Homo sapiens: one gene and its partners. The protein of the gene in region 1 interacts with the protein of each later gene in a pairwise test. Each region holds a gene or a part of one and is shown in the gene's direction. Other genes may lie near its edges. The genes, in order: KCTD9, CDPF1, IL16 and PRDM6.

Region 1 (7,031 bases):
CTATTAATAATCAGCCTCTCCCTAAGTGTATGTTATTCTTTGAAATATTAGCCATTGATAGGATGAGTCATCCTAGTTAGCAAGATATTTAGAAATAAGTTCTAGTGCATGAAGACAAATGGCTTCAGATTTTTTTCTTTTCTGATTTTTTGGTTTTTGTTTGTTTTTTACTTTTATTTATTTATTTATTATTTATTATTATTATTTTTTGAGACGGAGTTTTGCTCTTCCACCCAGGCTGGAGTGAAGTGGCGTGATCTCAGCTCACTGCAACCTCTGCCCCCCAGGTTCAAGCGATTCTCCTAACTCAGCCTCTTGCTTAGCTGGGATTACAGGGGCTTGCCACCATGCCCTGCTAATTTTTGTATTTTTAGTAGAGACGGTTTTCACCATGTTGGCCAGGCTGATCCTGAACTCTTGACCTCATGTGATCCACCTGCCTTGGCTTCCCAAAGTGCTAGGATTACAGGCGTGAGCCACCATGCCCGGCTTATTTTAATGTTTAAAGTCAATCCTGTATTTGGCAGAATTTCACTAAATTTAATGATAAATATTTAGGAGATTCTTAGTGGCTAATTCATAGTCTGAGTCACTGAAAGTCCTCATCATTTGGGAAAACATGTACTTTCTAACAGTGGAATGTAGTTCATAAATACATAAATATACAGATGTTTGAGTACATGCCCAAAAGTATGTTACCAATGGGGTGTGTGGTCAGAAACATTTGAAGGCCTTAGTTCTAATCACTGGAATCTTTGGTTTAAATTTTGAGGGTTTTTTTTGTTTTTGTTTTTTAAAACTGCTCCGAAAGAGTCAGTTATGTTGTTTGTACCTGTCATCCTTTTTCCATGTGCCTCAACATTTTCGTTATTCTTTTTAATATTCCCTGTAAGAGTTGGCATTAAGGAAATTGAAATGGGGACTTGCACATCTGCATGCAGTGTGTGGCTTCTGAGCAACTTAATGTCAGTGCAGAGTTTCTATACGTCTTGAACACAGAGTGCTTTTTTTACTTCAGAATATTCAATAATGAGCTGTGCAAGTCCTAGGCCTTTTGTATACTGATTAATTCATCATTCATTCATTCATTCATTCAGTGAACACTTAGTAAATGCCTTCTGAGTATGTGGCATCATGCCAAACATGGCAAACAGGGTAGGAAATACTTTCATTCTGTACCGTGTTTTCATTCTTGGTCCAAGAAATAACTTTTCTTCAGGTTTTGGTATTAGGTCAGAAACATGTTGGGGGCAGGCACAATGGCTCATGCCTGTAATCCCAGCACTTTGAGAGGCTGAGATGGGAGGATTGCTTGAGTTCAGGAGTTCAAGACCAGCCTGGGCAACATAGTGAGATCCCATCTCTAAAACAACAACAACAACAAAGAATGAAAAAGAAATATGTTGTTAGTAGTAAGTATCCAGGTTTGAATCCATTACGTTGTTAGAGTTGGAGAAAGGTGAAAATTTATCTGAACCTCTGCCTCTGAAGGCTAAACATTAATAAGAACCTAGTGAGGGCCCACTTTTTAAGCTTGAACATTTCTTAATATATTTGATACATAGAAAAGAATACAATAAAGAATATACATAAAAAGAGGAACATAATATAGCAAACATCTGTAAATCTGCCAGATAACCCAAGAAGTAGCATGTTATCAATAACATAATGTGTTTATCCACGTTCCTGTACTCCTGTTTTGTTTTTCTCTTTGCCGTGTGTTTTTAAATAGTTTTGTCACATATATATGCATAACTAAATTACCTTTTTTTTTTTTTTTTGAGTCGGAGTCTCACTCTGTCGCCCAGGTTGGAGTGCAGTGGCATGATCTCTGGCTCAATACAACCTCCGCCTCCCGGGTTCAAGCAATTCTCCTGCCTCAGCCTCCCAAGTAGGTGGGATTACAGGCGCCCGCCACCATACCTGGCTATTTTTGTGTTTTTAGTAGAGACAGGGTTTCACCATATTGGCCAGGCTGGTCTCAAACTCCTGACTTCGTGATCCGCCAGCCTCAGCCTCCCAAAGTGCTGGAATTACAGGCTTGAGCCACCGTGCCCGGCCCTCACCTTTTTTTTTTTGAGACAGAGTCTCGCACTGTCACCCAGGCTAGAGTGCAGTGGCGCGATCTTGGCTCACTGCAACCTCTGCCTCCTGGGTTCAAGCGATTCTCCTGCCTCAGCCTCCTGAGTAGCTGGAATTACAGGCACGTGCCACCACTCCCAGCTAATTTTTGTATTTTTAGTAGAGATGGGGTTTCACCATGTTGGTCAGGCTGGTCTCGGCTGACCTCCTGATCTGCCCGCCTCAGCCGCCCAAAGTACTGGGATTACAGGCGTGAGCCACTCTGCCTAGCCACTAAGTTACATTTTTAAAAAATCAGCTTCGGGACATACGGTATCTCAAATTGATATTATACTGTATATAGTTTTTTGTGGAGACAATGTCTTCCTATATTGCCCAGACTGGTCTCAAACTCCTGGCCTCAAGCAGTCCTCCTTCCTCAGTCTCCCAAGGTGCTGCGACTACAGGCATGAGCCATCATGCCAGGCCAGTCCTTGCTTTTTTCGTTCAATATAATTCTCTTCCAACCATAATATCTGACATAGTGATAATTTATTCATTTTTACTGCTTTATTAAAGTACATGTTATACAAATACTACCATGATATTCCTGTCAGTGGACATTAGGTTGTTTATTTTCTTTATATTTTGTTGTTAAATTGACAGTGCTGTCATGAATATTTCTGTATATGTATCCTGGCACACAGCAGCAAGCATTTTTCTAGGGAGGTAGTTAATCAAACTTTAGCATGCATCAGAGTCACTTGGAGGAGGAGGAGGACTTGAGAAAACTGCTGGACTTCATCCCCAAAGATTAATATTCAGTAGGTCTGGGGTGGGGTAGGAATGTACATTTTTAATTTGCAGGTGAAATGTGGTTCAGATGCTGCAGGTGACAGGATCACACATTTGAGAACCACCACTCTAAGGTATAGACACATAGTTGTAATTATTGGGTGTTAGAATATGTAAATATTCAGTTTTGCAAAATAATGCCAGATTGTTTTTCAAAGTCATTGCAGTAATTTATATTCCCACCACCATTGCATAAATCTTCCCTATTGGTCCACATCCACTCCAACACTTGATATTACCAGTATTTTCCATTTTAAAATTTTCTTTTTTCACCTTAGAGTTAATTATCTCATCTTTTTTTTAAATTATCTCATCTTTTAAAGAATAAGATCATGTAAATATTTAAAATGTATTTGACTAAAAGTATAGGTAGAGAAAATTGAGTTCTGTATTTAGTTACTAGTGGTGATTAGTGGTTTTGTTGGGTAAATCAGCCTGCATAAATTCAACAATTTATGTGTATTGTATATTACATAATGCACAATAAATACTTGTGTATTTATCATAACAACTTTTTGCAAATTAATTTTTTTATTGGACCTTTAGGATCCAGGCAGACAGCCAGATTAGAAAATATTTAGTGATATGGTAAATTGTTTTTGATACTTTATTAGGATTGATTAAAGTGGCAATAAAAGTTGAATTCAAATACACAAATACTTGTGTATTTATTGTGTATTATGTAATAAATCTTGTGGGTATAAAAGAAAAAAATATTTTACATGCATGTGCAGGTTTTAATTTTTAAATTTAAATAATACAGGTTACAATTTGAAAATGGTGTTTAAAGGTAAATTAAAACTAGCCAATCGTACTAGGCATGGTGTTCCATTTACTCTCCAACTCATAGGCAGCTTTCACTTGTCATGGGATCTGAAATTTAAAAATAATTGACTCTGAAAAGTAGTATAATACAGACATCATGAACTTTAATAGACATGCTTCTCAATAAATGTAAAATGCTTCTATTCTTAGGGCCTAAGTTGTTAAGGTAGATAATCCCAGTGACATGGAAACATCAGGCCACATGGTGGAGATAACACATACAAAGTAAATGACCTTTGTAAGCACTATCATTTTATGATTTATTTGGCTCAGTATGAGGACAAAAACAATCTTAGTATATACTAACTGGAGCTTATGTCCATGATATACAAGATTTTTATTGCTCCTCTTTCTCAAAAGAGTTATATAAAGAAGAATGCATGTGCCAGTCTGTTTGCAACTTTCTCCGTAACTTAATCATCTTTTCCATATGTATGACAAATTTATGTTGATATATATATTTTAAAACCTGGTTTCTAATTAGTTTAAAATACAGAGTTTTTGCATATTTGAATATTAGTATTGCAACATAACTCCTTTTTATTTGTATGGTATTGTTAGTATGTGCGAATGATTAGTTGGAAAACAAACGTCAAGAATAGCCCTCCAAGTGAAAACAAGTATATTGGCCCAACTTAAGGGAAATTTTCAAATTTCTAGAACTATAAGATTCTTCGTATTAATTTTAATTCTGTTTTCTCTAATTGACCACCCTTTGGTTATTTCACTTAAAGGAAATTGTTAACTGCCTGATTGCAAACTGCTAAAATAATTTTATTTATAGAACTAGTATCTGGAGCTATGGAGACCTTAAAATAAATTAAAACTTCCCCCCTTATTACAAAAGTAATATAGGTTCATTGTAACAAATTTGGAAAACAAACAAAATAAAGCAAAAAACTTAGCAGGGTGTGGTGGCTCATGCCTGTAATCCCAGCACTTGGGAGGCTGAGGCGGTTGGATCACGAGGTCAAGAGATTGACACCCTCCTGGCCAACATGGTGAAACCCCGTCTCTACTAAAAATACAAAAATTAGCTGGGCGTGGTGGCACGGTTTTACCATGTTGGCCAGGCTGGTCTTGAACTCCTGACCTCAGGTGATCCACCCACCTTGGCCTCCCAAAAAGTGCCGGCATTACAGGCTTGAGCCACCATGCCCAGACTGCTTTAGAATTGCATTTATACTGTGTATTTTTTTACCCTAATGACAGTGTAAGAGACTTAAATGAATATGACTGTCACACAAAAAAGGTGTGTCCTACTTCAACACTCAACATTCAAGAAATATTTGTCAAAGACCTGCTGTAAGCCAGGTAATGTACCATTTGAACCTATGGCGGTTATTAGTAGAACAGCTCAGGAATGTACTTCTTTAGTGCTGCTTATCAGCTTTACCAAGGGATAATTGGTCACCTCTATTCACAGAATTCATAACAACTTTTTGCAAATTAATTTTTTTTATTGGACCTTTAGGATCCAGGCAGACAGCCAGATTAGAAAATATTTAGTGATACGGTAAATTGTTTTTGATACCTTATTAGGATTGATTTAAGTGGCAATAAAAGTTGAATTCAATTTATACCTAGACTGTGCTCCTTAGTAGTTTTACAGCCTACAAGGAAATACCTGTTGTACTTTGATTGCCTTGAAAATAGTCCTTGCCAAGCAGTATGTGTGGTTTTTTTCTATCATCTGGTCACATTTGACTTCAGTGGGGAAGAAACAGAAGATGGCAACATCCCAACCCTCTAAATAAAACAACAAACAGGTCTTGAGTTGTATTTCATCAGTTTGTTACTTTGGGTTCCTATGTCATGGGAAAGCCTAATAGAATTAAAATAGTTGTGTTTTTTTTTCTTCATTTTTTTTTTTCTGCTCTTTAAAATGGCACTGTCTAATAGAACTACTGAGATGATGGAAATTTGTGCTATTCAATATGGTAACAATTAGCCAGTGTGGCAGTTGAGCACTTGAAATGTGGCTAGTGTGACTGAACTGCATTTTAACTTTTAATTTTAATAGATTAAAATTTAAATAGACTCATGAAGCTAGTGGCTTCCACACTGGACAGCACAGCTTTAAAACATGGCAGGTGGCCTTTATTTTCATCGGAAGACAATAGACCCACAGAAAAACCAAGTCAATCATATGGAAGTAGACGACAATTCAAGTTAGTGTATTTTGAATAAGTCATATAAGATCTTAAGCTATAATATTACATTAAGTATTAAGCATAATACAGGCAGGTGCATTCAACTTGCATCTATTTTTTGGTATGGCCAAGAGAGAACAGTGAAAGAGATGCTGAGAGAGAAAGTTGATGTTAGGGCAAGGAGGGGATATCAGGCAAAAGAAAGCCATACTGAGATGTAAGAGCCAGAGGTAAATAAGAGGGAAAAGAAAGATTTAGAAAATTCTTTGTATGATGGCAACTATGCCAAGAACATTGAATTGGGAAAGAGGTGCTTGTGCTTCTTACCCTCTTTTCACAGCACCTTCTGACTGCAGGAGTTGTTTTGCATCTGCTTTGGTCAATCTCTTGCTCCTTTGCATGTTTGCTTCTCTCTTCTCTGTCTTTACTCTCTTCATGCTCTTTGCCTTAACACAACCCCAGCTTTGCCGTGTGCAATGCCCTAGGTACTGTATTTCGCTTCGCTTTGTCCCAGGAATGTGTATAATGCAATTACAGAATACCTCACTGTGTTGCAGAGGTGAACAATCATAGGAAATATGGGGGACATGTTTTAGTCAGGCTTTTTTTTCTTTTTTTTTTTCTTGGAGAAGGAGTCTCACTTTGTCGCCCAGGCTGGAGTGTGGTGGTGTGATCTCAGCTAACTGCAACCTCTGCCTCCCGGGTTGAAGCAATTCTCCTGCCTCAGCCTCCCAAGTAGCTGGGACTACAGGCACACGCCACCACGCCCGGCTAATTTTTTGTATTTTAGTAGAGATGGGGTTTCACTGTGTTGCCCAAGCTGGTCTCGAACTCCTGAGCTTAAGCAATCCATCCGCCTCAGCCTCCCATAGTGCAGATTTTACAGGCGTGAGCCACCGCGCCCAGCCCTACTCAGGCTTTAATTATTTATGGCAAGCCTGCTGTGTGTAGGACACTGTGCCAAGTGCTTTGCAGTATTTTTTTTATTGTGATAAAAGATGGAACAAAATTTATTATTTTAACCATTTTTTAAATGTGTAATTCATTGACATTGTTTACATTCACAATGTGTGTAACCATCACCACGGTTTATTTCCAGTACTTGGTCATCATCCCAAACAGAAATTGTAACCATTA
Region 2 (3,812 bases), on another chromosome or scaffold:
AGGCTGCTGCTGCCTGGCCATAGGTCATGGCTGATTTTCCGACGGCAGAGATTTGGGCTGTTCTGACGCTGCATTCACTCTCCTGCAGCCTCCTGGAGGAAAGCTATGTCATGAAGGATCCCTTCACCTCCGACAAGGACAGATTCCTGGTCCTCGGCTCGTGCTGCAGTTTGTGCAGCAGGCTGGTGTGTGTGGGCCCGGTGGGTAAGCAGCGTGGGCTGGGGCCACCTGTCCTTGCTGTGGTTATCCTGGAGCTCTCCCTGGGTAGGGAGGGCTGGGAGAGAGGGAGCAGCGGGTTCACCCCATTATAGATGGGGCCCCTCAGCTGATGAAGGGGAGAGGTGAGAGGGCAAGCTAGGGTCAGTTAGAGGGTCTCAGCCTGGTGTAGGAATGGAAATAGGTAATTGGTGGCTCTGCACCCACCCCAGTGGCCCCTCAGGGTTCCTCCCCTTCCCACCAACAGTGCAGACAGTCCTTGTGCGCCCTCTCACCAGGATGGTGACTTACTTTCTAGATGTTCTTGGAGGGATCTCCAGGAGAAGGGACTGTCCTTTCATGAGCACTTGTTGTGTGCCAGGTCCTGTGCTTGGGACCTGTTTTACTGCTGAGGCTTCATTCAGTCCTGCCCCTTAGTCAGGTAAAGCAGTATTATATTCCACCCATTTTATAGATGAGGGAACTGAGCTTCAGAGAGGCTGGGTGGGCCAGGTTCACCTGGGTAGCTGTAAACCCAAGGACGGATGGAAGTGGAGCAGCATGGCTTTCACAGCGTGCCCAGTGTACTCAGAGTGACCCCAGAGTCTGAGAAGTCCCTGAGCATCTGCCACAGGTTGACACACACAAAGGGGAGCTGTATCAATAGCCAGGGGGACGAGATGGGCCAGGGTGGGAGGAGCCTCCGCAGTGTGGCATGGGAGTATCTGAGGCTCATGGAGGAGCTGGTGGTCCAGGAGAAGCTGGGAAAGGAAGACTGCAAAGGTGGGTGGGCCAGGTGGGGAGGTGGAGGTCTTGAATGCAACACCTTGGCCTTGGGCTGCTCTTCGTGAGCAGCGGGGTGGCGGGGGTGGGGGGCGCACGCAGGTACCACAAGTCTGCAGCTTTCTTTGTTTAAACAGTAGGTTGTTAGTGAGCGGATCTCCATGGCGAAGGGTCTTTTCTAAGAACTGCAGGAGGGCAGCCTTATGTTTGCGAGCACACTAAGCTTTAAGAACAGACAGACACCAAAAATAAGAGTGGCCTAAGTAAAGCAAATAGTTATTTACTTACTTTCTCCTATGTAAGAGTCCAGAACTGGTGGCCTTGGCTGGAAGGGCACCCCTGTTGTCTTCAGCAGAGTCTCTATTTGGGTCCCTTGTGGCTGTGGAGCTCCCACCATCATATTTGCATCCCAGGCAGCGGGAAGGGACGTGAGAGCACAGTCCATGCCTTCAAAGGGCATGACCAGGAGGTGGCACACACAGTTGCTGACGCCCCTAACCAGCCTGAGTCACATGGCGATGCCCAGTTACAGAGGGGGCTGGGGAATGTCATCCTTAGCCACGTGCTGTGCACCGTGATGAATCTCGGGAGTTCTAGTGTGTAAGAGAGAGGAGAGCGGACATGGCTGCACGGTTCTGGCCTCCTGCCCAGACTAGCTGGCTCGTCCATGGCGTCTTTGGTCTGTGGGGCTGTCCTTCCTGTCCCCTGCCGCTCCCAGCACCAGGTGGCCACTGTTCGTGCTGCGATAGCTGGGACGGGAGGACTCTGGGATTTTCGGGGCATGGCCTGTGCTCCAGCTTTCCATTGTTGTCACTGCCCCGTGATGGAGCAGAGCAGGCCCCAGAGTCTTTCTGTCCCATCCCAGCTGTTCCCACCCAGGGTAGCCCAGGCCTGCATTGCTTTTCTCCTGGACACCCTGCCAGGCCCTCAGGCCTGGCTCTCCCTCTTGCTGGTCTAGCTCTGGCCACCTGCCCACACTGTGCATGCTGGGGCCCCAGCCCAGCCCCCCAAGTGTGGGAAGGGCTGGCCCCTGGGAGGAGCTGCACCATGTTCCCAGGATACTCAAGCCTCCATCCTTGTCCACTTCTTTAAGGAATGCAGTTTATTCTACTCCAAGAGATTCTGCCTCCCTTGTGTCCGGGAGAACATCAATGCTTTTCCTCAGGAAATTCGGCAAGACTTGGAGAAAAGGAAAGCTCCATCAAAGAGGACCCCCAGCCAGCCCGGTTCTCGGACGTGAGTGCAACTGGGGCTAGGTCATCGGGCGGCACCCTGCACAGAGCTCCTGGGCCAGCCTGCGCCAGGGATGCTGCTGAGCTGGGAGCCGCCATGCCTGGCCTTGTTTCTGGACCACTGGGAGCAGCACTGCAGCCCAGGGGAGCTGGAGTCCAGCTTGGAGCAGCCACAGGCCCAGGGAGCTGTAGCAAGAGGGTAGTCCAAAGGCAGATGCCAGACAAGACACAGCCAGGAACCCGGCCAGGTCCCCCCACATGCCCCTCAGGGCCCAGGCCTGAGTGAGTGCTGCTCAGATGTGACTGAGAGGGATGACCTCCTTCAGCAGGGCAGCTCCTAAGAGGCTGCGTGCAGGTGCGTGTGGGGGGAGATGCCACACTGTGTCGGGGCCATGGTGCACTGTAGGTGGCTGCAATGGTCTCTCTGTAAGGAAAATCACTGACAGCAGCTCCTTCTGGACCCAGTCTGGAAGGTCTAGAGGGGGATAGAATTTTTATTTCATATCCTTATGTGGTGCTTGGAAAATGTTTTTAACCTTGACCATGTATTATGTTTATAATTAAAAACCCAAAGAACCAGCTCATGTTTGGAAAAGGAATCTTCCACTGAAACATTTGGATACCCGACGTTCTCCCTGGACACTTGGCCCGGCAATAGTTGGGGTCTCCTGGGAAGCTGAGTGCTGGCTTCTAGCCTCTCCAGTTCCCTCAGACTCTGTCTTCAGCTCGGGCCCCTCCGTTCTGTCTCCCTCGACTCCAAGTCAGGAATACCGTGGGCTTCCTGCCCTCACCCCACACCTCAAGACCATCCCACTGCTTGCCTGCTTGCCCCCTGCCATCTCGCACTCAGCCCTGGGTGCCTGTGAAGCCTGGCCCCACTGCCTGCCGGGGGTTCCTGCAGCACCCCCCTACTCCAGGCTCCCCATCTCCCTGAAGCTTCCAGGGTAGCAGCTGGTGGGACACTGATCTGTGAGCTCTGGAATGTCTGCTTAGAATTCTGAGAGGCAGGAACTGCTCTGTCTTTGTAACTACTCAAGGCCAACTGTCACATGAAGGAATGAATAAAGAGTTTTTACTGACTTGTGCACTGATGGACTTTAAGATGCTCACTGCTTTAAAAGTTCCCGTTGTATGTGACTTCAGACGAAAGGATGTCGTATTCCGGAGCCAGATTGTCCTTGATCCATTCTGTATGTTGAAGGACACAAAAGGGACTGTGCAGGTGGAGACAGCCTCCATGAGGGGCGCAGGGACTGTTCTGGCGGAGGGCGGACCCCACAGCTGGGGACTTGGTTCTTTTAGACCAAACAGTCCATCTCGCAGCATCACTCAAAACTCACCAAAAAATTTTAAAAAATAGTTTATTTTTTAAAACCATTAAGGCAAAACTGTACCCTGAAATTAACTCTGTACATTCATCAGTCTTACAGTAGGACATCCCAAACACAGAAGTTCCCATATATTCAGGATATAAATCAATACATGTGGTCAGTTCAGTCTCCTAATAGGAAAACGAAGACCCAAGATTTTTTTTTAAAATTAAGGTTATTTTATAGCCATTTTCTAATTGCCTGGAACCAATCAGTTCATGTGACTAGAAAA
Region 3 (7,745 bases), on another chromosome or scaffold:
TATCAGTATTGATTTATCAATTGTAAAAAGGTACCACGCCAATGCAAGATGTTAATAGTATGGGAAATTGTGTGTGTGGAGAGGGAGATCAGTATTCGGGAGTTCTGTACTTTCTATGCAATATTTCTGTAAAGCTAAAACTGCTCAGAACAATAAAGTTTATTAAATTTTTAAAAAAGTGGTTGGGTGCAGTGGCTCATGCCTATAATCCCAGCACTTTGGGAGGCCAAGGAAGGAGGACTGCTTGAGGCCAGGAGTTCAAGACCAGCCTGGGCAACACAGAGAGACCGTGTCTCTACAAAAAAAAAGAAAAAAGAAAAAATAGCCAAATGTGGTGGCATGTGCTTGTTGTCCTAGCTACTCGGGAGGCTGAGGCTGGAGGATTGCTTGAGCCAGGAGTTTAAGGCTGCAGTTAGCTATGATCATACCACTACCCTGCAGCCTGGGCCACAGAGCAAGATGCTGTCTCAAAAACAAACAAACAAACAAAAAACAGTTTTTAAAAGTAATTCAAAGCCCTTGCAAATTTTATGCTGATCCAATTTATATTTTCAAAAAGCCTACCTGCTATTATGTGAAAAATGGATTATGAAGGTCTGCATAGGAACCAGAATCCCAGTTAGAAGGTGAAAGCTATAATCAGACAAGAGGCACTGGTAAGAGGAGGGTGGCGGCAGTGAAGATGGAGAGAAGCGGAAAGAAAGTGGGATAGCTTCTGGGGATAGAGCCAACGAGAATCACTGATAAATTGGATGTGATGTGGAAGGTTAGAGAGATGGAGGGATCAAGATGAATAAAAACTCACAGAGGGCTTATTCTGGCAGGCACTGTTCTAAGAACCTTACAAGTATTACCATATTTAGCCCAAACAAACCTTGTGAGGTGGATGTTAGTGCACTAGCCAGCCTATAGATGACAAAACCAGTCCACAGAGAAGTGCCTTTTTGCCTGCCTATGATCATGCACTTGGGCAGGGACAGACCTGCGAGATGAACCCAGGAATTTTGGCTTCAGAGCCTGTGCTATGTTCTTCCCACCTTGATACTGAGGATTTTGGCTTGGGAAATTGATGGATGCTAGTGACAATTACCAAAATGTGGAAGTTTAGGGAAGAAACATTTTATTAGGGGGGGAATCAAGAGTACTGTTGGCAGTGTTCCTTTTTTTTGCCTCACTGAATAACAGCCAGGCAATGTTACTTTTGAAATTTAAGTTAAACCCCAGCTGAAGATGTTAAGCAAGTGGTAGGAAAAAAGAGTCAGAATTCAAGGAGAAGTCCAGGCCTGGAGAAGTGAATTTGGGAGTTGTTGGCATGTGCGTGGTATATTTGCTTGTGGACTGGCTTCAGTTGCTTGTCGTGATTGTAAGTATCTTAGTGATGGAATATTACTTTGAAAGGATGCAAGCCTGATGGACAGTTTGAAAGAAAAAAAGGCCAGAGAGAGGGCAGCATGGTCTACATGGAAGTCAGCTAGAATTTTCGTATGAAGTTAAAACCCTTGGTTTGAATCTATATGTTGCTGTGGGCCAGGGAAAGAGGGGAAGAGAGCCGGGGAGCGGGAATCAAGGGACCAATGGCTTCTGACTGCACAGCCTTGGACGTGCACTTTTTGGACATGTAACTTCTCTGAGTCTCAGTGTTTGCATCCGTAAGTGGGGACGTACAATAAAATCATCAAGTTTTGGCCTCAACATTCTGTCTAAGTTGAAAGTGCTAAATGCAGAGAGAATTTATTATCATCATGTCCATTACTGTCAGGTTACATTACTAGTAACATTACATTACTAGTTAAAATTGTTACATTACTAGTTAAAATTGTTAAATTATATTCTGCGTCATGTTACATTACTAGTTAAAATTGTTACATTACTAGTTAAAATTGTTAAATTATATTCTGCTCATGATAATACAGTTCGCATGACCAAAAGTGTACAGCATAAAGAATTCCCAAGGCATTTTATAGATTGCAGGACAGCTCTTTGCTCAGACCTCTGAGCAGCCCTGTCAGATTATTGGGTTATTGTTTCCATTTTGTGGACATGGAAACTGAGACTCAGTAAGGTAAAAGGACTTGCAGTTGACAGAGCCGCTTAGTACAGAAGCTGGGGCTTATTGCTCTGACCCTAAGCTCTTTATTTTGCCATTGTTTGAACAGAATAGGAGATGACCCTGTTGTGTCATTTTAAGGACACACTTTCTTTTTGCCTTCTGAATATGTTTACTTGCCACAACAAACATGTATTACTTTTATAACTAAAATTTTGAAATTAAAAATTTTTGTAATTTTAATTTTTTAAATTAAATTTAAATTTGTAATTGTAATTTTAATTTTTAAAAATTAAATTAGAATTTTTAAAATTAAAATTTTTTAAATTAATTTTTCAAAATTTATAATTTTAATTTTGTAATTAAAATTTTTGTAATTAAAAATTTACTTTTGGAAATAAAATTTTGTAATTAAAAAATAGGAGAATTAGAAGGAAATACAGGTTATTGATTATGAAACTTTAGCAAGCATCAGAATCACTTGTTGAACAGATTTCTCAGTTCCGTGGGCTGGAAGGGCCAAAAAGGTGAGCAGGCTTCTGCTTGGTTAGCTGTTGGCAGCATGCTTCCTCCTCTATTGCCTCATTCTCTCAGTAACACTGTGCAGTAGAAGTTTCTAATTTCATCTGGCAGACAATTAATTTCATCTAATTTTCATCGTAGCAAACTAAGGCTGTGAATGACCAAGATCACACAGGAAGCTCTTGGTTGAGCTTCAAGTGGTGCTTGAACTTCCTAGTTCTAACCAGGGCGGGGCTCTCTCACCTGCGTCTTCCTCCCCGTCTCTTCTGGCTTGCAGTGAGCTGGACTATGGAGTGTTGGGCAGGGTGGAGACTCTTTCTGCAGGATGTCCTGAAGGGCAGAGGGGTGATAAAATTTCCACCTTGAAGCACAAACCACCCCGTATTAGGAAAAATCAGGGCCAAGTCTCAACTACACTTTGGAATAAATTTACCTTCTGAGAGTGAGAAAGAACAGATCTTCGGAAAATAGAGGGAGAGGCGGGAACTGGATTCAGGTGCCGATGACAAGAGAGAGCTTAGACTTAGTGGAGGAGGGGGGCTGTGGGGCCCTCCCAGGCCTCAGGATCCAAGAAGGGCAAGGCCAGCCCCCATAGCCCTGGGGTGCTGAATTGCTCCTCAGCCTCTCTGCCAGAGCAAGATGGAAGTGGGGCCTGAGTCTGTCCTGGCCCCACCGCACCCAGGCCATTGTGAGAGAGATTGTGGGTGTGAGCTGAGCAGGCGACACTGACAGAGGCGCTCACTCTCTGCAATTTAGAAATTCCTTCACTGCACTCCAGACTCACTCCAGACTCAGCCCTACAATGTCCCCTGTGCCTGCTGACAAAGGCAGCTTTATCCCCAGAGTGCTCCCTCCTCCCGTGCTTCCCTTGGGACCGTGGGCCTGTGTTCTCCAGCAGCAGCGGCTAGATCTTTGCAGCCTTGCATGGAATTTCAAGGGCTTCCTACAGGTTGCACCTACACCCTCATTAAAGCCCCCAGGAAGCCCTGAAACATTTGGTGCTGAGCGTTGGGAAACATTCCATTCTTTAGAAGAGAGGTCCATACAAAAACCTCAGCCTAGCATGTACACAGGGCTCACAGAGACTGAGCTTAGGAGAGATGTGTGGGATGCTCTTTGCGGGGCAGATGGATTAAATGCCACCTTATGATTAGATTCTCCAAGGGGCTACGTGGGGGAAAGGCACTCTGGTCTCATGACACTAATGCCAACAGGACACACACAAAAGTGCCCCATTCTTTTATGCTGCAGTTTTCAACATGCTCTGTATACGTTAGGTCATGGGCTCTCGCACCTGAGCACGCACCAAAATCACCTGGAGGCTTTGTGAAAACAGAGTGCCAGAGGTGCTGCTTCAGGAGGTCTAGGCCAGGGCCTGAGAACTTGCATTTCTAGCAGATGCTGCTGATGCAGCTGGCTTGAGGACCACTGAGTTACATAAGCTTCTGAGAGCCAGTCTGTTGTTTTTGGGAAAGGGTGGCACAGACAAGAAATGAAATGCTATGGAAAAAGCCTGGGCTTTGGAGACAGGTGGATTTTGACTTGCTAACTTGCTAACTGTGTGACCTTGGGGAAATTCCACGGCACGTAGTAGGTGTTTAATGAACGTTTGTGCAGTGGCTTTCTTTGTCTGCAAAGCAGGTGATATATTTACCAGATTGATGGCAGGATTGTATGTGATGACTTTTTTCCTCTTTTTATTAAATTTTTATATAATTTGAGAGGAGTTCTTGCTATGGTTTGCCCGGGCTTGTCTTGAATCCCCCGGCTCAAGTGATCCTTCTGCCTCAGCCTCCTGAGTAGCTGGGATTATAGGCACGTGCCACAGCTTCCAGCATGTGATGAGGTTTATAGAAAGCTCCTAGCAGCGTGCCAGGCACATTGCAGGCACCGAGTCATGTCTGCTACCTTTCGGCTCTCCTAGTCATTTCTGTGTTGTCCAAAGAAGGCAGGGGCAACTGGGCTGGACCAAGGAACCTCACTGTGGTTCTGTGGCTCTGCACTGGGTTTGCCTCCTGGGTGTTGCCGGCCAGCCCAGCAGATGGTGGACCTTGTTCTGAGGCTGAGCTTCTCAGCACTGGCAGCCCCCCTTTTTGGATCAAGCCTTTTCACGTGGAGCAGTCAGATGGCTCAGATCAGGAGTCTTCGAGCAAATCCATGCCAGGTGGGACACATTTGTCCTGAGTCACCTGTCCAGAGCAGGTGGTGAATATTGTGTCCTACTCACGGCATCTCAACTATCGGAGCCTGGGATCTGACTCAAAGGCCGGCCTCCGTCTGAGAACTGAGCGTCCATTTCTCAATCCTTGCCGGCTCTGACCCAGGCCTGGGCCACAGGCTGTCCGGGAATAAGTGGTGCTGCAATCCCTGCTGGGCAGATGGAGAGAGGAGCAAGGGAGATGGCAGCCCCGGGGGACTGTGCATAGGGAGGTAGGTGGGCACCAGGTGAGTGAATGTCTGTCAGGCAGCTGCTCTGTCCAGGTGGCCGTTACCGGAGGGAGGAAGCTGGCCTCTCTGACCTGAATGGGGAGGGTCTTGGTTGCTAGGACGTAACTTCATATTTGGAAGTGGTGCTGGGGTCAGGGGCAGGAGCAGAAGCCAGGATTGTGTTGGTAGGAATCTCTGTGTCACCATGTCACAGTTAGGTACAGGAGGAAGCAGCTTCAGAAGGCCAGAGCGGGCAGAGGGATATCGCTTGACCTGGCTCTGCAGCACGGGGAGAATTTGGTCCTGAGATTTCTGACTTTTCAGCCTCGTCTCATCCTTGGCAATGGGGTGTGGAAGGAGGTGGAGGAAAGGAAGGCAGCAGGAGAGAGAAAGGCCACGGGGCACCTGATGGGGGCTTCTCTGCTGCCTGGCCAGACTCCTTTTCTCCAAAGTGGGCACAGCGGGTGGGCATCTCTGCAGATTGACCATGGGAAAAGTGTTCACTCTGCTTGCTTTTTGATAAGGGTCCCGTGACTAATTCCTGCATTGGTAGGTCCCAGGATTGGTGTTTTTTTGTTTTTGTTTTTTGTTTGTTTGTTTTTTTCTTTTTTGGTCCATAGCAAGTTTGCTTTCTGTAGCTGGAGAATGAGGTAACAGCATAAGAATAGAGGTTCCCTGTGGAATACAGGGAAGCATCTTCTCCTCCTGCCCTTATCAGGTGAAATCCTCCCACTTCAGGCTGAGCCATACAAAGACGACCCCTTTGTCCCAGGAGGCCAGTTCAAGCTCCCACTGGGTTCCTGGAAGCAGCCTGGGAGCTGCCGTCTCTGTGGCTCCCCTTCCTATTTCTCCAGTTTCCCCCGGAAGGAGAAGACCGTTCAGCCTTTTTCCTCCTCTGTTCTCCTTCTTTACCCTGAAGTTAAGTGATGGTCAACATTTACGAGCACAGTAGAAGGCACCTCCCCTGCTGCAGATATGACGTGGGCATGAGCCGTCAGGTGGGTCAGACCCTTGAAGCCTCTACTGCTCATTTATTCAATCCCCAGTGAGTCTTTTAAATAAAACTTAGTACCCCAACCATTTCCTGGCCACTCTTCAAGCCCCAGGCACCAAGCTAAAATATTCACATACCTCATTTAATTTAAACCTTACAACAACCTGGAGCTTAGGGAGTATATCCCCAAACCGAGAGGTGAGGAGGCTTGCACAGGACCACTCAGCTAGACGTTCCCAGGACCCAAACCCAGCTTGACTCCAAAATCCATGCTCTCACTGGCTTTGTGGCATGCCTCAATAAATACTTGAGTTTCCTCAACACAAAGATGGTCATATATCCATAGGGTTAAAAAATAATCTCTGTTGGATGCAATTGACTATAGAATTATTATTTTCTAATTGTTTGTATTCATGGAAACCTTTTTAGAATTAAAATCTATCATGAAAACTCATGTATAATCAGTTAAGGCAGAATTATTTTGGCAGAGGCAGACCAGGACCTTGAGACCTGCCCTTTTGTCAACCCCTCCCCCTTTCTGGTTCCCAGCAGTGGCCCAGGGGTATAGGAGTGAGAGGGAGGGAGGTACACTTTGAATTGAAATCTACTGGCCAGGTACAGTGGCTCACGCCTGTAATCCCAGCAATTTGAGAGGCCGAGGCGGGCGGATCACTTGAGGTCAGGAGTTCCTGACCAGGCTGGCCAACATGGTGAAACCCTGTTTCTACTAAAAATACAAAAATTAGCCAGGCGTGGAGGCACATGCCTGTAATCCCAGCTACTCAAGAGGCTGAGGCAGGAGAATTGCTTGAACCCGGGAGGCGGAGACTGCAGTGAGCCGAGATCATGCCACTGCACTCCAGCCTGGGTGACAGAGGGAGACTCCATCTCAAAAAAAAAAAATATATATATATATATATATATATATATATAAAATACATATTTTTTATTGTGCATTTGAATTGGTAATACATTTTCATATATAGGTTACGTTTTGCTATTAAAAAGCAATTCATTGTGAATAGCAATATGCTCATAAACACGGGGAGAAAATAGGCATGGGGCAAAATAAACAAATAGTTCCAAGAACTTGGAGTTGTGGTTAACTAGGAAGGCAGCTTGAAATCAGGAATTTACTTCAAGTTCTTCTTTTGAATTCCTGTTGAAATAAGGACGAATCTATGTCAGTCTTGTAAACTAGACAGTGTTGCTCAGTGTGTGCCAGAAACACTGAGAAGTCTCAGTGGATGTCTCAGGTGGATGTGAAGGACGTTGGGTGGAAGGGCGGAGCCCATCAGGAGGGAGGCGCTGTTCTTGCCACATCTGGAGATGCTGGAGGAGAGGTTTGCTTTGAGTGGGAGCAACTGGTAATGCTGGACAGTGACCCGATGCTGGGATCCCGCGTGGAGATCTCCATCGGTCTTGCCCCTGGCTGAGTCTTGGCATGTGCAGCTGGGATGGAAATGCTCCTCCAGTGGACAGTTACAGCAGCTAAGACATGGCTACCTTGCTCAGCCAATAGGAGGCGGTCACCTACAAACATCCCTTCCAAAGGTTCAAGGCTCCCCTGAGAACTTGGATGCTGGGGAATGGTGCACCTTCCCTGCTGCTCACTGCACCTCTCACCTGGCAAAGAAAAGCCACAGGAAATCTAAGCCCTTTCTGCAGTCTGGCATCGGCATATGAAAGATTCCAACGAGGAATTTCAGAACTCATCCCAGCTCCCGAATCTGAGTAAGCACAGACCTCTTGAGT
Region 4 (7,638 bases), on another chromosome or scaffold:
GGTGAGGGTTTTCTAGTTTTTAGTTGGGCAATACATTTTACACCCTGCTCATCTTAGACTCACAGCATGCAGGAGTAGGGTATAAAATATGTAATAGGGTGGGGAGGTCAGAATTCGGTAGCTGCTTCATAAAAGCTTAGGACAGAACACTGCATTTGTCCTGCCTCTTCTTTGGACTGTTGAAGAAATTGAGGTCCAGATAGTTGGAGGTCGGTCACCGTGTCAGGGTCTAAGTTACCAGCAAGTTAGGCGACTCCAATTGATGAGAACAGTCAATGGAGGTACTGAAAGAATATCGAGTAGTACACAGCAGCTTAAGGGAAGCAAGTGTGGCCAGTAGCGAGGAGGCAAATCCTTGACAGTTCTTCAGGAGAGGCCCCTTTTACTGCTTTAGCCACTGGCTATAGGTTAGGGCAGGGAATATCCCGCTCTGGACAGAAAACTGGCATCTTCTTGCTTCAAGTCTCTATTTAAATTTCACTTTCTAACAGAAGCTTTCCCTGGCCACTATATGTAAAACAGTAACTCCTTCCACCTACATGCACTCCCTTTCCCTCTATCCTTTATTGCTTTCCATAGCACTTATTCCCATCTAACCATTACTGATTTATTACTTACTATTTACTTTCAGTCTCCGCCTCCAACCCCCTTCTCCATGATCCCATTTCTGAGGGGTGGAGTGTCCTCCAAAAGTTGCCTGTGCCCTCAGGAGAGGAGGTTCCCTTAGATTCCAAGTCTGGGCAAGTTTCAAAGCTCCTCCCTTGGGAACCTCATAGGGATGGGGGTGGGGTCCTGTTTTTTTCTCACAGCTTTCCCTTTTGCCTGCAATCCAAGATCCTCAGTGAGAAGGCTCCTCCCTGGTCCCAAACCATGGAGGAAAGGAGCTTTCTAAACAAGCGAATGAACAGGTATGGAAGGAAAAAGGGCCACCGCAGGCCAGAGTCTCTGTGCTGTTTAGATACCACATTTTCAACCAAGTTTTTGCTGGCAGGCTCAAGGGACCTGTCTGCTAATACGGCTCAGCAAAGATTCCTCCTAGCTACATCCAGCCTTTCCTTCTCCTCCCGCCCCCCTCCTTTCACCTGCAGCCCACCCCCCACCCCCATCCATTTCCTAGGAAAACAAATCTCTGGGAGGAGGCAGGAAGAGTGGATCTCAGCGAACCCTTCTGAATAAATGTCTATATTAATGAATTATTAACTCAGCCACCCGTGACCTTAAACCTACTAGAAGCAGGAGCACCCAGGGCAGAGCGGAGAGCTGCTGAATCCTTTATTGGAGTCCTGTCAAAGGCAACCGACCATTTGTTCCACTCCCCCATCAAGAAAAAATAATATGAAAGGCAAACTTTTGAATTGTATGTTAAACGGAATCAGATAGAGGGTCTCCTGGACAGAACCCCCTTCTCTCCTCCTACCCCTTCTGCTGCTCCCTCCCTACCCTGGCCTCCAGCTACATCCTTCCCCTCCCAGCTCAGGGTACAATGGGCTTCCCAAGGATAATTTTCGGGGCGAAAATGCTCGAGAAAATGATGAATTTGGGTAATTTATCGATCCTGGCTCCTCTTCCCACTTGTTTTATTTTAGAGGTCATTAATCAATGAAGAAAAACACCACCGTGTCCCCCCGTTTGCATTTAATACACTCAAGGCTCCTCATTTATTCCTCTGGAACAAATTCCCAGCAAATATTCACCCATCGATTTGGGAGCGATGGATTTTTATAAAGGTTTGATCGCTTTCTAAGTGGTCGAAGTGATTTGTTTCCGTGGTCTTCTCAGTATTGAAGGGGGTGGGGGAAGCGGATTTGAGGGGGTGCATGTCCTTGCCGTCGGTGGGCTCACTTTCTAAAAACTATTGAGATGCGCCAGGGTGGCCGTGACCAAGCGGGCCCAGGGTCAACTGTGTGAGGGGGAAGCGCCCCTCAGAGCGCGCGCAGCGTCGGGGGTCCAGCTTACGCCGCTGCGCGCCCTTGTGCGCACCGGGTGAGGATGCCGAGCTCTGCGGGCATCCCGGAAGCCGCGGTGGAGGCAGGGGCCCCGCTCGGCGCAGTGGGCCTGCTGGGGAGGTGCAGGGGAGGTCCTGACTCCTGGTCTATTCCCTTCCAGACTTTTTCGTTCGCTCCCGGACCTTCAGGGCTCTCCCTCAAACTTTCTCCTGCCCCCTTCACGGGAGGTTCCTGTAGCCTCTGGGCCTTAGGGTCCCGTAAGCCTCGGGATCGACTTGTGCCCGGGGTGGGTGTGGCGGAAGCTTGAATCGGATTACCCAGGTACGCCACCTGTAGACGTAGTGGGCGAGGGGGACTTTGCTACCTTCTCAGCTTCTTCCCTGGACCCCGCAGCGAGGGGAACCAAATCTCTCCCATGATAGCCCCTCTGGCGTCAGTCTGGACCGAGTGGCTACAGGTTGGACTAGGGTAGGCAGAAGATGCACTTGGCACCTTACCGAACGGTATTTGAATCCGTCTCCATTACTCATTAATGGCGTGACCTTAGGCAACCCATCTAAACTTTCCGAACCTCAGCGGTCCCCATCTACAATATGGGGGTTAATGATAATGCCTTCTCCGCATGTAGGTGGATTAAATGGACATAAAGCGCCTACCCCCGCCCGGCACGTCCAAAACTCTCATTAACAGGTCAGCTAATCTTATTACGAGAGGAACCCTCCCTCCTCCGCTTCCCAGAGTGTGGGCGGCATGAGGCCACGGAAGCAGCTGCTGCAACTAGCATTTCAAAATCCAGAGACTTTCTAATGGTGGCAGGGGGTGAAAGGGTAGGGGGGAGGCAGGGTTGGGACAGGTAGAGGTAGGTTCTTGGGGACTTCCAGTCTTGGGGACCAAGCGCTTGGAACTAGCTGGGTTTGGGCAGAAACAAGAAGGCAAATGACGGGACCGCCGCCGGAGTCCGGACTTCCATCCCTGGAGTTCACTGTCTCTCCCAGGGAACAGAGGAGTGTCCTGGTTTCTCAGCAATGAACCAGGAGAGTGTGAGAAAGAGCATTTGTTTCTTCTCCCGTGGCCCGACAAGCCACTCTTCGGCAGTTCTGCGAGCAGATTAATTGAAACGGGCCTGGAACTTCATCCTCTCCTCCCGATGGAGTTGCTGGAGGTCTGCGGACACTGCCTGGTTAGCCTCCGGGACCACAGCGCCGTGGGCTTTCCCTCGTGGTGTCTGCCTTAAACTTGGGTGCTATCAATCTATCCAACAATGACGGATGACCTTGTCATAACGACGCCAGTCAAAACATTTTCGGTCTAACTCTCTTCCAACCAACATCGAAGCATCCTGAATGAGACCCGGATGAAGTCTGAACAGCACGTTTCCCAGGTTCAGAAAACTTGAGTGGTGGGAAGAGAAAAAGAAACAAGCAGAAATCAGGAAAGAATGGCTATTAATTGCTCAGATTGGCAAGTGCTAAATAAGTTAGGTTGTTTGGAAAAAGATAAATGCCGTTTCTTCTCTTTACGGTATGGCCAGAACCCCGGCGATGGGAAAGTACCTCCTGAGTCGGTCAATTTCACACACCCTGCCTGTGCCCTCTACCATCTACTACCGAAAATGCCAGGAAGAGCTGGGGGGCAAGTGCCTCCTTCGTGGGTGCGAGACTGCATCGAAGGGCTGCCCTGGCACAAAGTCTGGGGAGAGGACATGGTGGAGGTGGGGCTGCACTCCCACCCTGCCCCTCTAACACCAGGTTTTGGGTAGAGAAACCTATGCGTGACCTCCTGCGGCAGCCGCAGGCAGCTGACCGCAAACAGCCTCGCCCGTGTCCCGGAGCAGTTGTGCCACCAGACGTAACACTGGATACTTGTCTCCGGGCCCCAAGAAGGAGAGGGAAAGAGCCCTCCAGAAGACAACCCGAGAAGGGGTCAGCAGAGCGCTGGGTGGAGTGCAGACTCCATTGCAGCCGCCTCCCAGCCCCACGGCCAAGCTTGAGTCCCTCCAGGACCAGCTGCTCTCGGTCTCAGGACCCTCGGTCCTACGCCTCCCTGCACCGACAAGCCTCCCTCCTGGGCTGCAGACAGAGGGTTTCACTGCAGCGCGCAACCCGTCCCGCTCCGCCCCCAACTTTTCTCCCCGGAGGATTTATGTTAGAGGTTGCGTGGCGGGCGAGTGGACTCTGGCACCCAGAAGCACTTCAGGAAAAACTGAGCCGGGCAAAAGCGCAAACCCGGTCCTGGCGGCGCGGGCTTGCTCCAGCGCGGACACCACAGCGTGTGCGGAGATGCATTCCCGTTGCCGCATTTCCACTGCTTTCAAGATCAGGGCACTGAGCTGGGACCCAGAAAAGACATATCATGGGCAGAAAGAGACAACAGGCTAGCGGCAGACGTCACGCCAAAAAAACAGGGGATGGGAGGGCGGAGGAGTTTGTGCGGGAAAGGCGCTCTGGCGATGTGGGTCGGGCCGAATTAGAACTTCCTTCTTCCCTCTCCCCTCCCCTTCTTCTGGCCTGCCTCCCCTCCCCCCTCCGTTCTCTCTCTCTCTCTCTCTCTCTCTCTCTCTCTCTCTCTCTCTCTCTCTCACACACACACACACACACACACACACACACACACACACACACACACACACACACACACACACACTCACTCTATTTTGTGCTGTCGTAAAACCCACGTGTCCAGCCGGGAAGCTGCCAGAGCGTGGAACCAAGGAGCCAGGACGCGGCAGCGGCCAAGCGCAGCAGCCCACGGCGGTTGAGTCGGGCGCCCAGGTCCGTCCGCACTCTCGCGCCCTCCGCGGGCCTCCCAATTTTCTCGCTTGCAGGTCGGGAGGTTTCCGGGCGGCACAATCTCTAGGACTCTCCTCCCGCGCTGCTCAGGGGCATGTAGCGCACGCAGGGCGCACACTCTCGCGCACCCGCACGCTCACCGAGACACCCGCACGCACCCACCGGCAGCACCGAGTTTTCAGGTAAGGTGAGGCTGGTCTGGGACTTAAGAGTCTAGGGCTTGGTAGATAGGAAGGTTGGTGGTCCTAGGTTGGGGGCGGGCGGCGAGACTGTTCTGCCTCCTGGCGCCTGAGGCCAACGCGGCTCGGGCGCTGCGCCACGCCGGCTCGGGTCGGCTCCGGGCGCTGGCTGAGGGCGGGGGCTGCGTCCTGCAGCCGAGTTCTACGGGGCAGCGCCCTCCTGTCGGGCCCCAGCATTGCTGGATGGGAGCTGGACGCTGCGATCGGGGAGGCAGAGCAGGGTGCACACAGCTCCCTCTGTGCGGCGCCGCAGCTTCGGAGTAAACTTTGCGCCCAAGCGGAGTTGGGAAGAGGGAGCCGCGGAACCGGGCGGCCGCCGGCTGAACCACCGGCTCGGGCACTTTCTCCAGGGTCCCAGTGGCCCTCTTCCCGGCCCCTTTCGCCCAGCTCACGCGCCCCCTCTTCCCTGCCCTCTGCCCCCAGTTCGAGGCGCCGGACATGCTGAAGCCCGGAGACCCCGGCGGTTCGGCCTTCCTCAAAGTGGACCCAGCCTACCTGCAGCACTGGCAGCAACTCTTCCCTCACGGAGGCGCAGGCCCGCTCAAGGGCAGCGGCGCCGCGGGTCTCCTGAGCGCGCCGCAGCCTCTTCAGCCGCCGCCGCCGCCCCCGCCCCCGGAGCGCGCTGAGCCTCCGCCGGACAGCCTGCGCCCGCGGCCCGCCTCTCTCTCCTCCGCCTCGTCCACGCCGGCTTCCTCTTCCACCTCCGCCTCCTCCGCCTCCTCCTGCGCTGCTGCGGCCGCTGCCGCCGCGCTGGCTGGTCTCTCGGCCCTGCCGGTGTCGCAGCTGCCGGTGTTCGCGCCTCTAGCCGCCGCTGCCGTCGCCGCCGAGCCGCTGCCCCCCAAGGAACTGTGCCTCGGCGCCACCTCCGGCCCCGGGCCCGTCAAGTGCGGTGGTGGTGGCGGCGGCGGCGGGGAGGGTCGCGGCGCCCCGCGCTTCCGCTGCAGCGCAGAGGAGCTGGACTATTACCTGTATGGCCAGCAGCGCATGGAGATCATCCCGCTCAACCAGCACACCAGCGACCCCAACAACCGTACGTAGCCGCAGCCCGCGCGCTCTCTCCCGGGGCGCCGGCGCCGGCGCCGGCGGGCGCGGGTGCCTGTCAGGGAGGCGGGTCGGATAGGAGTGACACGGGGCCGGGTGGGTGGGGAGCACCTGGTCCTGGCCGCTGGCCCGCGCCTCCCCGATCTCTGTGACAAAAGTTTTCTGGCGTTGGAGAAGGAAAGAGAACGGATGGGACGGCCGGTGGCACTTTGGGGTTCCCTCTCCCTCCCTCTCCTCACCTGCTTCACAGTCCCAAGTGTTTGGGGCCGGAGTCTACCGTGGACCCGGCCTAACAGACCTCTGCCCTCCCGCCGGACAGTGCCCGGGGCCAGGCGGGTACTGGCAGCGTGTGACAGGGGGTGTCTGGGTCAGGCCCTGCCTGGCCTTAGCCGGGACGAGGGAGGGACCCTCAGCGTCTCTGGGGAGCACGCAGACCAGGGCTTGTTTTTGCTACTCTCCACCCCACCTCTGGAGGGGTCATTTTCGGGCCGCGGGGTTGTGGGGGAACCGGCGGGAGCTGTTCGCTGGCCAGGCCTCACTGGAGTAGGAATTTTAGATGAAACTGAGTCCGTTTCTCCTTGAAGGCAGGCAGTATTCTTAGATCTACTATTCATTTAAAAAGAAGGAAAAGAAAAAAAAATGACTGCTACTTACTGAGAAGAAAATTTCTGTTCTCCTCCGATTCCGCTGATCCCGCTTTATCCGCGCACCTTTGACCCCGCAAACATTCATAACCCATGTTGGTTTATGTATTTATTTTTAGAAATTAGGGTGACTGTAATTTAGTAAAAGACGCTTACTCCCCTCTTCCTCCAAGTTAATAGCAAATGCCTAACTAAACATCAGAATTCCTGTAGCTTCGGTTTCTATATTCACAATTTGAAACGCTTATCACAAGTACAGTTCCATTTGGCGGTTTTGAAGCAAAACTCTAAATGAAGATCAAGCAATATGTACTGCTTTATACCTGCTTCTTTTTGATAATTTCAGAAGTTATACTGTGTTTACACCTATACTGTGTTGGGAGTGTTAAACGTGCTCCCAGAGACTTCTGGAGATAACATTAAAGTGTGTTAAGAGCGTCAGATTGAAAGCAATACAGGATTTGAAAGATCAGCATTCATTCAGCTATTTTCTTCATCTCATTCCTTCGTCTGGCTTCTGTATGAGTAAAGTTAATTTAAAACATTTATTTTTATTCAATTTTGAATAAGTTGCTTCTTGCAAAATGTCTACCGCTCTGTGAACTTCTTAATTCGTTGTAAAAGCAAAATAAGTTCAGTTATAGCTCTTTAAAGGATTCCCTAAGTCGTTGATTTGATGAAAAAAAAAACACTGGGCAACTGCCTCGTGGTTGAGGTCTATGAATATTTTCATTATGTTGGACATAGCTGTGATGGAGATAATAATTACCAACAGAAAGAGCAATCGTATTTACTTTTTTCTTTATGAAGTTTGAGAGTAAAGCACTGGCTTAAAATAGTGGTTTCAACTCTAATTTTGCTGTGCAGTTGAGAAGACTTGTATTTCAGAGTTTCAGAAAGTTTTACAACATTATACTCTCCCAACAGATTTCAAAAAATACTTATCTCCTACTGAATTTCTTGAATGTGTGTTTTTGAA

Evidence for each region.
Region 2: the proteins of KCTD9 (region 1) and CDPF1 interact in binary tests that used the Homo sapiens proteins (3 or more experiments, as listed by UniProt).
Region 3: the proteins of KCTD9 (region 1) and IL16 interact in binary tests that used the Homo sapiens proteins (3 or more experiments, as listed by UniProt).
Region 4: the proteins of KCTD9 (region 1) and PRDM6 interact in binary tests that used the Homo sapiens proteins (3 or more experiments, as listed by UniProt).

What each region holds. Positions count from the first base shown.
Region 1 is NC_000008.11:25,448,404-25,455,434, reverse strand, and holds part of KCTD9 (BTB/POZ domain-containing protein KCTD9), read left to right. Parts: intron 1-1,859; exon of another isoform or gene 1,860-1,891; intron 1,892-4,953; exon of another isoform or gene 4,954-5,055; intron 5,056-5,764; exon of another isoform or gene 5,765-5,912; intron 5,913-7,031. UniProt on the Homo sapiens protein: Substrate-specific adapter of a BCR (BTB-CUL3-RBX1) E3 ubiquitin-protein ligase complex, which mediates the ubiquitination of target proteins, leading to their degradation by the proteasome.
Region 2 is NC_000022.11:46,243,498-46,247,309, reverse strand, and holds the end of CDPF1 (cysteine-rich DPF motif domain-containing protein 1), read left to right. Parts: intron 1-88; coding exon 89-200; coding exon of another isoform or gene 201-204; intron 205-514; coding exon of another isoform or gene 515-633; exon of another isoform or gene 634-637; intron 638-2,071; coding exon 2,072-2,218; coding exon of another isoform or gene 2,219-2,496; 3' UTR 2,497-3,297; downstream 3,298-3,812.
Region 3 is NC_000015.10:81,192,139-81,199,883, forward strand, and holds the start of IL16 (pro-interleukin-16), read left to right. Parts: upstream 1-4,740; 5' UTR 4,741-5,014; intron 5,015-7,337; exon of another isoform or gene 7,338-7,672; coding exon of another isoform or gene 7,673-7,724; intron 7,725-7,745. UniProt on the Homo sapiens protein: Interleukin-16 stimulates a migratory response in CD4+ lymphocytes, monocytes, and eosinophils. Primes CD4+ T-cells for IL-2 and IL-15 responsiveness. Also induces T-lymphocyte expression of interleukin 2 receptor. Ligand for CD4.
Region 4 is NC_000005.10:123,084,603-123,092,240, forward strand, and holds the start of PRDM6 (putative histone-lysine N-methyltransferase PRDM6), read left to right. Parts: upstream 1-4,638; 5' UTR 4,639-4,917; intron 4,918-5,397; 5' UTR 5,398-5,412; coding exon 5,413-6,004; intron 6,005-7,638. UniProt on the Homo sapiens protein: Putative histone methyltransferase that acts as a transcriptional repressor of smooth muscle gene expression.